2 separate regions of the Homo sapiens genome follow, and region 2 is linked to region 1. Evidence: fine-mapped expression QTL. A gene starts in region 1. The other region holds a variant in brackets. All regions are shown on one strand. Distances are between the middles of the regions.

Region 1 (5,371 bases):
AGCCTCTGCATGACAAAAATTCAGCATAAGTACACATTTTAGCTTTTCTAATTTCTTCTTGCCTAAAAAAAATCCCCCCAATAATAAGAATGATAGAAGAAACTAGTAACTTAAACCTTAAATCCTACGTTCATATCTTAGATTTTGAACAAATATTGAATCCTTTTCTTTGAATAAGAGATAAGACTTTGATAGTCTTGTGTAAGCAAATATCAGTGATCACACATACACTAGAAAAACACTTGATCTTTATGCCTATATTACTTACTGTTTCTATTTCTGATGTCTAATCTAAACAGCACTGCTGTTAGGATCAAAGTGACCATCCATGATGCACAGAGCACGTACCAGGGTAAAGTTCCAGCTGGGACGCAGGCATCAGCAATTGTAGAATTTGGGTTCTCCCTTCCTCAGATCCCTGACTGTCCTTGGTCATTCAAGAAAGATTCACTGTCCCTAGGCCAAGAGTCAGGAGCAAAACAGGAACACCAAGGGTATGGTCTGAGGATGTTGTCAGCAGGGAGCAACGTGCGTGTGTGTGCACATACACTAATTCTGAGACACTGTGCACAGCCCAGCTTTCTTGGAAAGCCATTTAAAAGATATATATGTGGCAACAGAGAGGAGGAAGTCTCAAGATTAAGAACAGCTTTTGAGTGTGTGTGTGTCAAAATATTCATTCCTATCACATGCAGTAAAACTGTATTCCAGAGCCATTAATACGCCCTGGGGGACTGAGGGGATTTGCAGCCTAAGATTTCAGACTTAAAGCCCGCTAAGGCCCTGAGCGGGGCAGCAGGGCAGGAGAAGGAATGGAGCGTTGAAGGGAACATTTTATAGACATTCTCCCTCATAGTGGCTGTACTAAGTAAACAATTAACGGGCACAAACTGCCACTCCAGTGTCTAATAACTACCTCTGCCAGAGCACCTGCCAGCGCCACCACCTTCCAGGTGTGTGATGCACATCATCTCGCTGAACTATGCTAGCCTCAGGAGAGGGTTGCTCTTTATTTTACAGGTGGGAAAACAGGGGCTTGGAGAGGTCAAGGAACTTGCCCAAAGTCACAGCATAGAAGTGACAGAATCCGAGTTTTGACCCAGATTTGATGGGTTCCAAAGCGTGAACTTATTTCTCCACTCCACAAAAATAAAACCTACTCTTCTTACAATATTTGAAAGAGCCCTCTTCTACCACTCTGCTGTTTGTTTTAAACACAGCTTGCTTATCTGTCTGGCATATTCGGTAGAAGTCTGTACTTTGTCAATGCCTGGTTTGCCTGGATTTCAGCTACCTGGCCCCTGGCATCTAAGCCTGGGTGAGAACAGGGAATCCACTCCTCTCTAAGATGCATCGTGGAGTTACTCTTTTACTCTTCCCTGAAAGTGATAGTTCAATCTTCAACAGGGGCTTTGAGGGAGAACAAACTCGACCCTTTGGCAAGCACGACTTCTGGCTTCACCGTTTTTTTGTTTTTTGTTTGTTTGTTTGTTTTTGACGGAGTTTTGCTCTTGTTGCCCAGGCTGGAGCGCAACAGGGCGATCTCGGCTCACTGCAACCTCTGCCTCCCGGGTTCAAGCAATTCTCCTGCTTCAGCCTCCCGAGTAGCTGGGATTACAGGCATGCGCCACCACGCCCGGTTAATTTTTTTTTTTTTTTTTTTTAGTAGAGACGGTTTCACCATGTTGGGCCAGGCTGGTCTCGAACTCTCGACCTCAGGTGATCCGCCTGCCTTGGCCTCCCAAAGTGCTGGGATTACAGGCGTGAGCCACCGCGCCCGGCCCTGGCTTCACCCTTAAAGCAGAAAGGCCAGAAGTCATCAAGGCCATGGGTTTACTAGCTTAGCTTCCCCAGACTTAATTTCAAACACCAACAACCGAAATGTTTCCTAGAATGCAGAGCTAATGAGACATCAACCTCTGTCATTTCCTATGTTTTTCACAATGTGCCAAAACAACTGCACACATTGGAGGCGTTTTTGAATGTGATATTCAGGCGACCTTGCCAAGCATTGTCTCATTTCCTTACTTTGTGGAGCATGAAACCCAAGGGAAGTTCTCACCCTCTCTCCAGGACCAAGCAGGACACTGGGAGCTGCTGTCCCGTCTGCAGGCGGGACTCCATGAAGGCCCCTGTCTGCCCTTCCAGCCTTTGCCACAAACCCTCGAACGCTGGCTGCACACTGGAATCACTTGGGGAGCTTTTAAAAGATACGGAGGCCTGGGTCTGACTCCGTGAGATTCTGATGGAATTGATCTAGGGTGCAGCCTGGATATCTGGATTTTAAAAGCTCCCCAGGTGGTTCTAAGCTGCTGGCACGATTGAGAACCCCTGCGTTCGACCACAGTGGGATAAACGATTCCGCTGACTGTGAAGTTCATCCCTCTCAACTTTCGCTACATGCTTCAAACTCGCGGGTTTCTCCGCTTGGTTCCACCCAGAGCTCCTCCAGAGCCGCGCTGCGTTCCGCCCGCACGCAAATCCCGCCTCCCTGCGCCTCCTCACTCGCAGCGCCCAGGACCTCAGAAAGGGCCTGCCCCGCGCGAATCCCCAGTCGCTGGGACTTACTTGGCCACCAGGTTTACAGACTTCGCAGCCGCTGAGAGCTAGAGAAGAGCCCGGAGAGCGCCATGGTCCGGGGACGCCGGGGCCGGGAAGCGCCGTGGCCCGGGAGGACGCTGCTCCCGCAGTAGCGCGAGGGAGGGGCAGGACCGGGGCGGCTGCCTCGCGGGCCCGGAACGGGAACTGGCTGCGACTACAGCCGCAGCCGCGCCCCTCTGTTGGCGCGCCCAAGAGCCTGCCGGCTGCTGGGAGAGGCCGCCGAAGGGCGGGGGCGGTCAAGGCAGGGTCCCACGGTGCTGCCATTCGCCCGGGTCTGGCGCGGGGGGGCGAGAGAAGCTGCGCGCAGAGGGACGCCCGGTGCGAGAGGGTGAGCCCCTGGCCACCGCGCAGGGCCGAGTGGACAGGCCCAAGTTCGCCCAGAGGTGACACACTTGGGAATTTGTGGTGCCATCGTGCCAGGTCCCTCCTCGTAAAAGTGCCTACCCAGCGCCTGCAACCAGAGCCAAAGCCTGGACATGATAGGGAAACTCTTGTTAAAACGCGACACGTGGTCCTGATGAAATGGAGGTTAACGTAATCAAATTTAAATTACACTGCATACATTTCAATTTATACTTTTTAAAAAATGTAAGCTTTTCTTCCTATCCTTAAATTTGTTCTTGGCAGTGTACATTTTATGTTCTATGCATATGCTCTAATAGGTTGTAAAAGAGTTTTAACATGCTAATAAATGTCCCCAATAAAATAGTTTTAAAACGTTTTGAATGGGGATCGTGTCCATAAGGGATATCATGCTACAGAAAGTTGTCACTTACTCACACTGAAGAAGTACATTCAATCATATAGCCACTGATGCTTGTGAGTATTAAAATTCCCATCAGAGGCTGCCCTCTGAGAAACAGAAAGTATGTTCTTAAATCAAAAGTGAAAGTGCAAACTAAAGTTGATAGGATCAAATGTGCCAACTTGTGTCAGGCCTCTGAGCCCAAGCCTGCATGTATACATCCAGATGGCCTGAAGCAACTGAGGAATCACAAAGGTAGTGAAAATGGCTGGTTCCTGCCTTAACTGATGACATTACCTTGTGAAATTCCTTCTCCTGGCTCAGAAGCTCCCCCACTGAGCACTTTGTAGACCTTCCACCCCCCCGGCCCCCGCCTTGCCCACCAGAGAACAACCCCCTTTGACTGTAATTTTCCACTACCCACACAAATCCTATAAAGCTACCACACCCCTAACTCCCTTTGCTGACTCTTTTTTTCGTACTCGGCCCACCTGCACCCAGGTGAAATAAACAGCTTTATTGCTCACGCAAAGCCTTTTGGTGGTCTCTTCACACGGACACGTGTGACATTTGGTGCCGAAGACCCGGGACAGGAGGACTCCTTCAGGAGACCAGTCCCCTGTCCTCACCCTCACTCTGTGAGGAGATCCACCTATGACCTCGGGTCCTCAGACCAAACAGCCCAAGGAACATCTCACCAATTTCAAATCGGGTAAGCGGTCTTTTCACTGTCTTCTCCAGCCTCTCTCACTACCCTTAAATCTCCCTCTATTTCCAATTCCAGTTCTTTCTCCTCTCTAGTAGAGACAAAGGAGACATATTTTATCCATGGACCCAAAACTCCAGCTCCGGTCACGGACTCAGGAAAACAGTCGTCCCTTGGTGTTTAATCACTGCAGGGACACCTGCCTGATTATTCACGTACATTTCATTGGTGTCTGATCACCGTGGGGATGCCTGCCTTGGTCATTCACCCACATTCCCTTGGTGGCAAGTCAATTGTGGGTCGCCTGCTTTGGCTGCTCAGCCACATTGCAGCCCAGGGCTGCTCACCACCCCCCTTCTCCGGGTCTCTACCTTCTTTTCTCTGGGCTTGCCTCCTTCACTATGGGCAACCTTCCACCCTCCATTCCCCCTTCTTCTCCCTTAGCCTGTGTTCTCAAGAACTTAAAACCTCTTCAACTCACACCTGACCTAAAACCTAAACGCCTTATTTTCTTCTGCAATACCGTTTGACCCCAATACAGACTCAACAATGGTTCCAAATAGCCAGAAAACGGCACTTTCAATTTCTCCATCCTACATGAGCTAGATAATTATTGTCGTAAAATGGGCAAATAGTCTGAGGTGCCTGATGTCCAGGCATTCTTTTACACATTGGTCCCTTCCTAATCTCTGCTCCCAATGTGACTCATCCCAAATCTTCTTTCTCTCCTGTCTGTTCCTTCAGTCTCCACCCCAAGCTCTGAGTCCTGTGAATCCTCCTTTTCTATGGACCCATCTAACCTCTCCCCTCCTCCCCAGGCTGCTCCTCGCCAGGCTGAGCCAGGTCCCAATTCTTCCTCTGCCTCCACTCCCCCACCCTATAATCCTTCTATCACCTCACCTCCTCACACCCGGTCCAGCTTACAGTTTCGTTCCGCAACTAGCCCTCCCCTACCTACCCAACAATTTCCTCAAGGTTAATGCTCCTTTTTCTTTATCCAACCTCTCCCAAATCAATTAGCATTTAGGCTTTTTTTCATCAAATATGAAAACATAGCCCAGTCCATGGCTCTTTTGGCAACAACCCTTAGACACTTTACAGCCCTAGACTCTGAAAGGTCAGAAGGCTGTCTTAGTATGCATTTTAGTACCCAATCCACTCCCGACGTTACATAAAGCTCCAAAAATTAGAATTCGGCCCTCAAACCCCACAAAAGGAATTAATCAACCTCACCTTCAAGGTGTACAATAATAGAAAGGAGGCAGCCAGACAGCAATGCATTTCTGAGTTACAATTACTTGCCTCTGCTGTAAGACAAA
Region 2 (5,371 bases), 20 kb before region 1:
GCTACTGCTTCCCCCAGAAACCGTCCTGGTCTCTTCTGAGTCCCAGCGGGGTCATGTCATAAATGAGTTGTGTCATTCCTCTAACCAAGAAGGAATTTGTGGTCTCCATTTTATTTTTCAGGAGATAACGCAAAGCGTAAGTGGAAGTAAGGGCTGTTAAGGCGTCCCACAGTGGAGCGGGGAAGATTCTTCACTGTGGACCCACCGTGGGATGTCATCATTCCTGACCCTGAGTCGGTTCCCCTCCGAGTCTCACCCAGCAACAAGCAGCCCTCCAGCCTTCAGAGGCACTGAATGAACATCGCTGCTGGGGATGCTCTTATGCTTATGTTCTTTTTCCCTCCTAATTTAAAGGGGATCTAAAAATGAAGTGTCTGGGAACCAATACACACAGCAATGAGAACTGAGATGTCAGGGTTTGCTCCAGACACAAACACAGAAGTAAAATACCTGACTGTGCAACCTGCTAACCCAGGCATTTGTGTGCTATTAGTACCCCAAAATGCAGCCCTGCCCGCTGGACTAAACTCCCACGCTCTTCACTCAGATCAGCAGGGAGAGGCCTCTTCTAGCTCCCGGGGTCCACACAATGCCATGCCCGTCCCTGTCCCCGGGGCACCTTGTCAGGCTGGGTGGGGCAGGCACACACAATCTCCGCATCTTCGGCCGAGAAGTAGTCATTCTTCAGCAAGTTGTCCACCAGACACTGAGTATTGCGGATGTGAGTGACCAGAAGTTCCCGATTGCTTTTCAGTAATTGAATGTGGGGGTGAGACTCTGATGGGATTATTTCCATCTCACTGTGGCCCTGCTCTTCCATAGTTAAAGTAGCAAGCGGCTACTTTTCCCAAATTCATCTTCAGCTGCGTGTGTCCTCTCAGCAGAAGGGCAATCAGGATTCAGGCCGCGCCCTCCAGGGCCCCTGCTACTCTGCGCAGCCCCTGAAGAGATCAATGACATCATCAGCAAAGCAAAAGCTACAGAAAGAGCTCACCCCACCTCCCACTGGTTGTGGGGTTTCTCTACCTAGAGCAGGAAGGAACCATGCTTAAGACCTTTATCTGGCCAGGCAAGTTGGCTCATGACTGTAATCCCAGCGCTTTGGGAGGCTGAGATGGGTAGATAGCTTGAAGTAAGGCCAGTAGTTTGAGACCAACCTGTGCAACATAGTGAGACACCCATCTCTACAAAAATAAAAAAAATTAGCCAGGCATGGTGGCGCACCTGTAGTCCCAGCTATTGGGGAGGCTAAGGCAGGAGGATCACATGAGCACAAGAGTTCAAGGCTGCAGTGAACGATGATCACACCACTGCACTCCAGCCTGGGTGACAGAGCAAGGCCCTGTCTCTAAAAAAACTTTTATCTTAGATGCATTAAAGAAAAAAAATCATAATTTAATTGTTTGCACTTGAGGGTTACATCTCTAGGGTAGGTGACCAGAGATAGCCAACTCTTTTTTATTTTTAAATCAAAACATCTTTATTATTACTATAAAGCAAAAGTGTGCTTTGATCCTATACTGGGATAGAGATGGAAAGGTGTTTATTTTACATAATAAGGTTAACAGGGCTTGGAGGTTTCTGCATTCCCCAAGCAGGGAACAGGCCCAGAACTGAGAAAGAAAGACCTGTGGGGTTTGGTGGGAGACGGTCTCAGCACAAAATAGCCTGAGAAGAGAGACAGCAGCATGAAGTCTCCTGTGGTAGCCAGAGGCAAGGAACCTGCGGACGGTGATGTCTCAGTCACTGTTGCCCATTTTGGGTTGTGCTATAACCTCTTCCCCCGTGTCCTTGACCTTCAGCAAAGTCTGTTATACACAAGCACCCTGGGAAAGGAGGGAAAAGCAATAGCCCATGTGGCATGAAGTGGGACAGAGGGAGGGCAGAGGGGCAGGAGGAAGAGGGAGAGCCGGCACAGAGTTCCTGGGATTAGATTCCCAAGAGAGGTATCTCTCTGGAAACCCTTGAAAACCTGGTACAAGTGCTGAGTTTCTTGTCTGGGTAGGAACAGGGACCCAGGCTATTTTATTTGGGCATTAAAAAACATTTGGGTTCATCTGAGTTATCCCAAAATTGCACTCACTACCTTCCTTGTAACAATAACAGCAAAAAATAATAATTTTT[T/A]AAAAAAATCCCACAGAAGATCCTTCAGCCTCTTCTTGTCCAGGAATACTTGCGTGTGTAAAATGATCTTGGAAGTGGAAAGGCCTGGAATTGGCCACTTTGTCGTTTGTCTAGGCAGGAAAACTCATGCATTTCAGAGAGAGAGTAAAAAAAAGGTTTTTTTGTAGTTCAAAAAAAAGCTCATAGATCTTTTAACACTATCCACATCATTAATATGTTTCACAAGCCACATCTGTTAACATTCAGGTCCAGTGGTTCTCAATTTTTTTTCCACCAAGTGGCACATGAGTCTCCTGCTCTTTGACATGCTTCTATGTTTTCTTTTTTTAACCTATCAAATGCCAGACCCCACACAATAGCTTTCTTTTTAGAATCCAAATGATAGAGCAGGAAAGAGTAAAATTTAAAATTATCAGCAACAGAAGGGCAAGAGATCCTCACCAAAAAAATTTAAAGGTATGAAAATATTAGTTATTGTTCCAATAAAAGTTATTAAATACTAATCCAGCCTTTTCTTTTTTTTTTTTTTTTGACAGAGTCCCACTGTGTGGCTCAGGCTGGAGTGCAGTGGCACAATCTCGGCTCACTGCAACATCTGCCTCCTGAGCTCAAGCAATTCTCCTGCATCAGCCACCCGAGTAGCTAGAACTACAGGCGGGTGCCACCATGCCCAGCTAATTTTTGTATTTTTAGTAGAGACAGGGTTTCACCACGTTGGCCAAGCTGGTCTTGAACTCCTGACCTCAAGTGATCTGCCCACCTCGGCCTCCCAAAGTGCTTGGATTACAGGTGTGAGCCACCACACCCGGCTATTTTCCATGGCAGTCAATTCTATGACCCACTTTAGGATCCTTAGCTTTAGAAAATCGGTTCATTTAAAGCATACCAGCTGACAATATTAAATTTAAATTAGCAGTTAATAATACCTTTTTAAGTTTCTGGCATCATTCTTTGAAGTTAGAATATTTTAAAACAACATTGTTTAAATCTTCAATTTCCAATTTATTTCTGGAATCTGCAAAATCAAAGAAAGACTTAAAAAAATTATTGTGGCACATGGTGAATGAATGAATAAAATTGGCAAGAGAATAATTTTAAAATCTAGTACTCCCAGGTATCAGACTACTCTCTGTACCTTCTTCTTTTAGGACAGTGTTTTCTAAATGTTCAACGTCCCCACCATAGTCACTTTTTTGTTGTTCTTGCCATAATTGAGTCACACCTGTCCTTTATTTGCTTAACCTTTTGCTTTCAATTGAGTTTTGAAAACTCTAATAATTTTAAAGGAATGTAATGTCACCATTAGAAACAGAAAAAAAATATCCTTTGCAATACATAGAAAGTAACACAAAAATTAATTCACCAGAAATACCACAATGTTACTGTATTCCAGCTAGTCCTGCTGCCTGGAAAGGCTCCAGGGTTGGGGCCTGTTTTCTCTCGGAAGCATTTGAGAGATGTTAAAGACACAGTAGCACAGAATTGAGACTTTCTCTTTAAGATCATCACAAGGCTGAGAGAAAACTGGAAAGAAGTCACTTCTCACTTTGTGATTCAGCATTTTGCAATGCCATGCTCCATTCTTTAGAAAGCTGGGAAGGGGTGTTGCACAGCTTCCTTCATCCCTCCTTTCCCGACCTTTGCCCGCCTACCACGAGGGGCCCGTTTTACTCACTGCTTCTGTCTCTTCCAAGCCTGCGATTCCCATAAAAACAGCAACTTGTCTTCCCAGATGTTTTCTGTAATCGCCGCCACAATCTCCACCTCTTGCCATCAAAGGCAGAAACCGAAGGAAAGTCTCCTGACTTACAATCACCTAAATAAAGCAATATATTATATGACAGCCATCTGGCAAGGAGGCTGCTTTATAATGTCCAGAGCCCTGGCTGAAGATTTAATCAGGTGTGCAGAGTTAGCTCAATTCAGCAAGAACTTAACAAGGTATGGATGTTGGAAGGGAAAGCAGAGAAACTGAACTCTGCCTTGGTAAACAGAATCTAAGGGTAGACCAAAACCATACCATGGGAGACTGGAGATCAATTCGAAGTTCATGGGCACTTATTACCAGAAACACCAGACAGCCAGAGATCTGCTGGCCCTGGGGGGCAATCCTTTCCTTTCTTTGCTTGGTAAAGGGTGGGTCCAGTTGATGAAGACGGTCTGGTCCTCTCTTCCAGGCAAAGAGAGGACGGAGATTGGGCTGGGGCCAGGTATCTGGGAGCTGGGTCTGCTCTCCTGGGTGGAGCTTTCCCAGGCCAGTGGTGCAGACCAATGGGGACTGAAGTTGGAGATCCTGGTAAGACAGCTCCAGGGATACCCAAAGGAAAAAACCAAGCTAATGGAGGCAGCCAGAAAACAGGACACACCGCAGAACAAAAGATGGATCACCAAGTGGAAAAATGAAGCAGAGGAGATCGGAGGAGGGTGAGTCCACCACCAAAAGCCATCTCCTGAGGCAAAGGCAGGTGGGGGTAGAGCCTGTGGGCAGTGAGGGAGCCCCGAAGGGAGCTGGGGGTTGCACAGGCATTTCCTCTCAACCGCTCTTCTTTCTAGCTTTCTGCCCTCAGAGAGGGTTAGTTTCCAGGGTAAGGGAATCCCAGGGGCAATTCACCACTCCGGGCTCCTCACAGAAACCAGTGCCCAAGTCCCCTCCTGCAATGTGATCTTCCAAACTAAAGAAAAGGTCTGCAGAGCCTCCAGGAGAAGATTCAGGGAAGCTGCTCTGGTGAAAAGGAAGCAGGGATTGCAGGATGGCGGATCTTCAAAGGGAAAAAGGAGACCATAGAGCAGCTCTGTTGAATTGAAATATGACACAGCTTTCCTAGTAATTTAAAACTTTCTAATAGCCACACTAATAAAAGTAAAAATGGACAGGTGAAATTAATTTCAATGATATATTTTAATTCTAATACACTCAAAATATTTCAGTATGTCATCCATACAAAATTTATTTATTATTATTTTTTGAGATGAAGTCTCACTCACTCTGTCGCCCAGGCTGGAGTGCGGTGGCGCAATCTCGGCTCACTGCAGCCTCCGCCTCCCAGGTTCAAGCAATTCTCCTGCCTCCGCCTCCTAAGTAGCTGGGATTACAGGTGCACACCCCCATGCCTGGCTACTTTTTGTATTTTTAGTAGAGACAGGGTTTCATCATATTGCCCAGGCTGGTCTTGAACTCCTGGCCTCAAGTGATCCTCCCACCTCAGCCTCCCAAAGTGCTGGGATTACAGGTGTGAGCCACTGCACC

Which allele goes with the higher level. Alleles are on the strand shown, and positions count from the first base shown. SD is a standard deviation of normalised expression in the study named.
In carriers of allele T in region 2, the expression in tibial artery of the gene that starts at base 2,747 in region 1 tends to be lower than with A alone (small effect, 0.23 SD a copy in GTEx).

The links. PIP is the estimated chance that this variant, and not a neighbour inherited with it, causes the effect.
Region 2: its variant is the best candidate, but not a certain one, in a credible set for the expression of NOD1 in tibial artery (GTEx, PIP 0.87).

The regions. Positions count from the first base shown.
Region 1 is chr7:30,476,038-30,481,408 of GRCh38, forward strand. NOD1 (nucleotide binding oligomerization domain containing 1) reads right to left here and starts at 2,747. Exons shown (of 14, transcript NM_006092.4): 1 at 2,569-2,747. RefSeq lists an enhancer at 2,243-2,987 and a silencer at 2,636-2,875.
Region 2 is chr7:30,456,102-30,461,472 of GRCh38, forward strand. It overlaps NOD1 (nucleotide binding oligomerization domain containing 1), which reads right to left. Exons shown (of 14, transcript NM_006092.4): 2 at 3,800-3,940; 3 at 3,051-3,139; 4 at 620-941. The coding sequence starts at 820. Among named protein-coding and RNA genes, the nearest start is that of NOD1, 20 kb to the right of the region's middle. The variant T/A (reference allele first, on the strand shown) is at 2,125.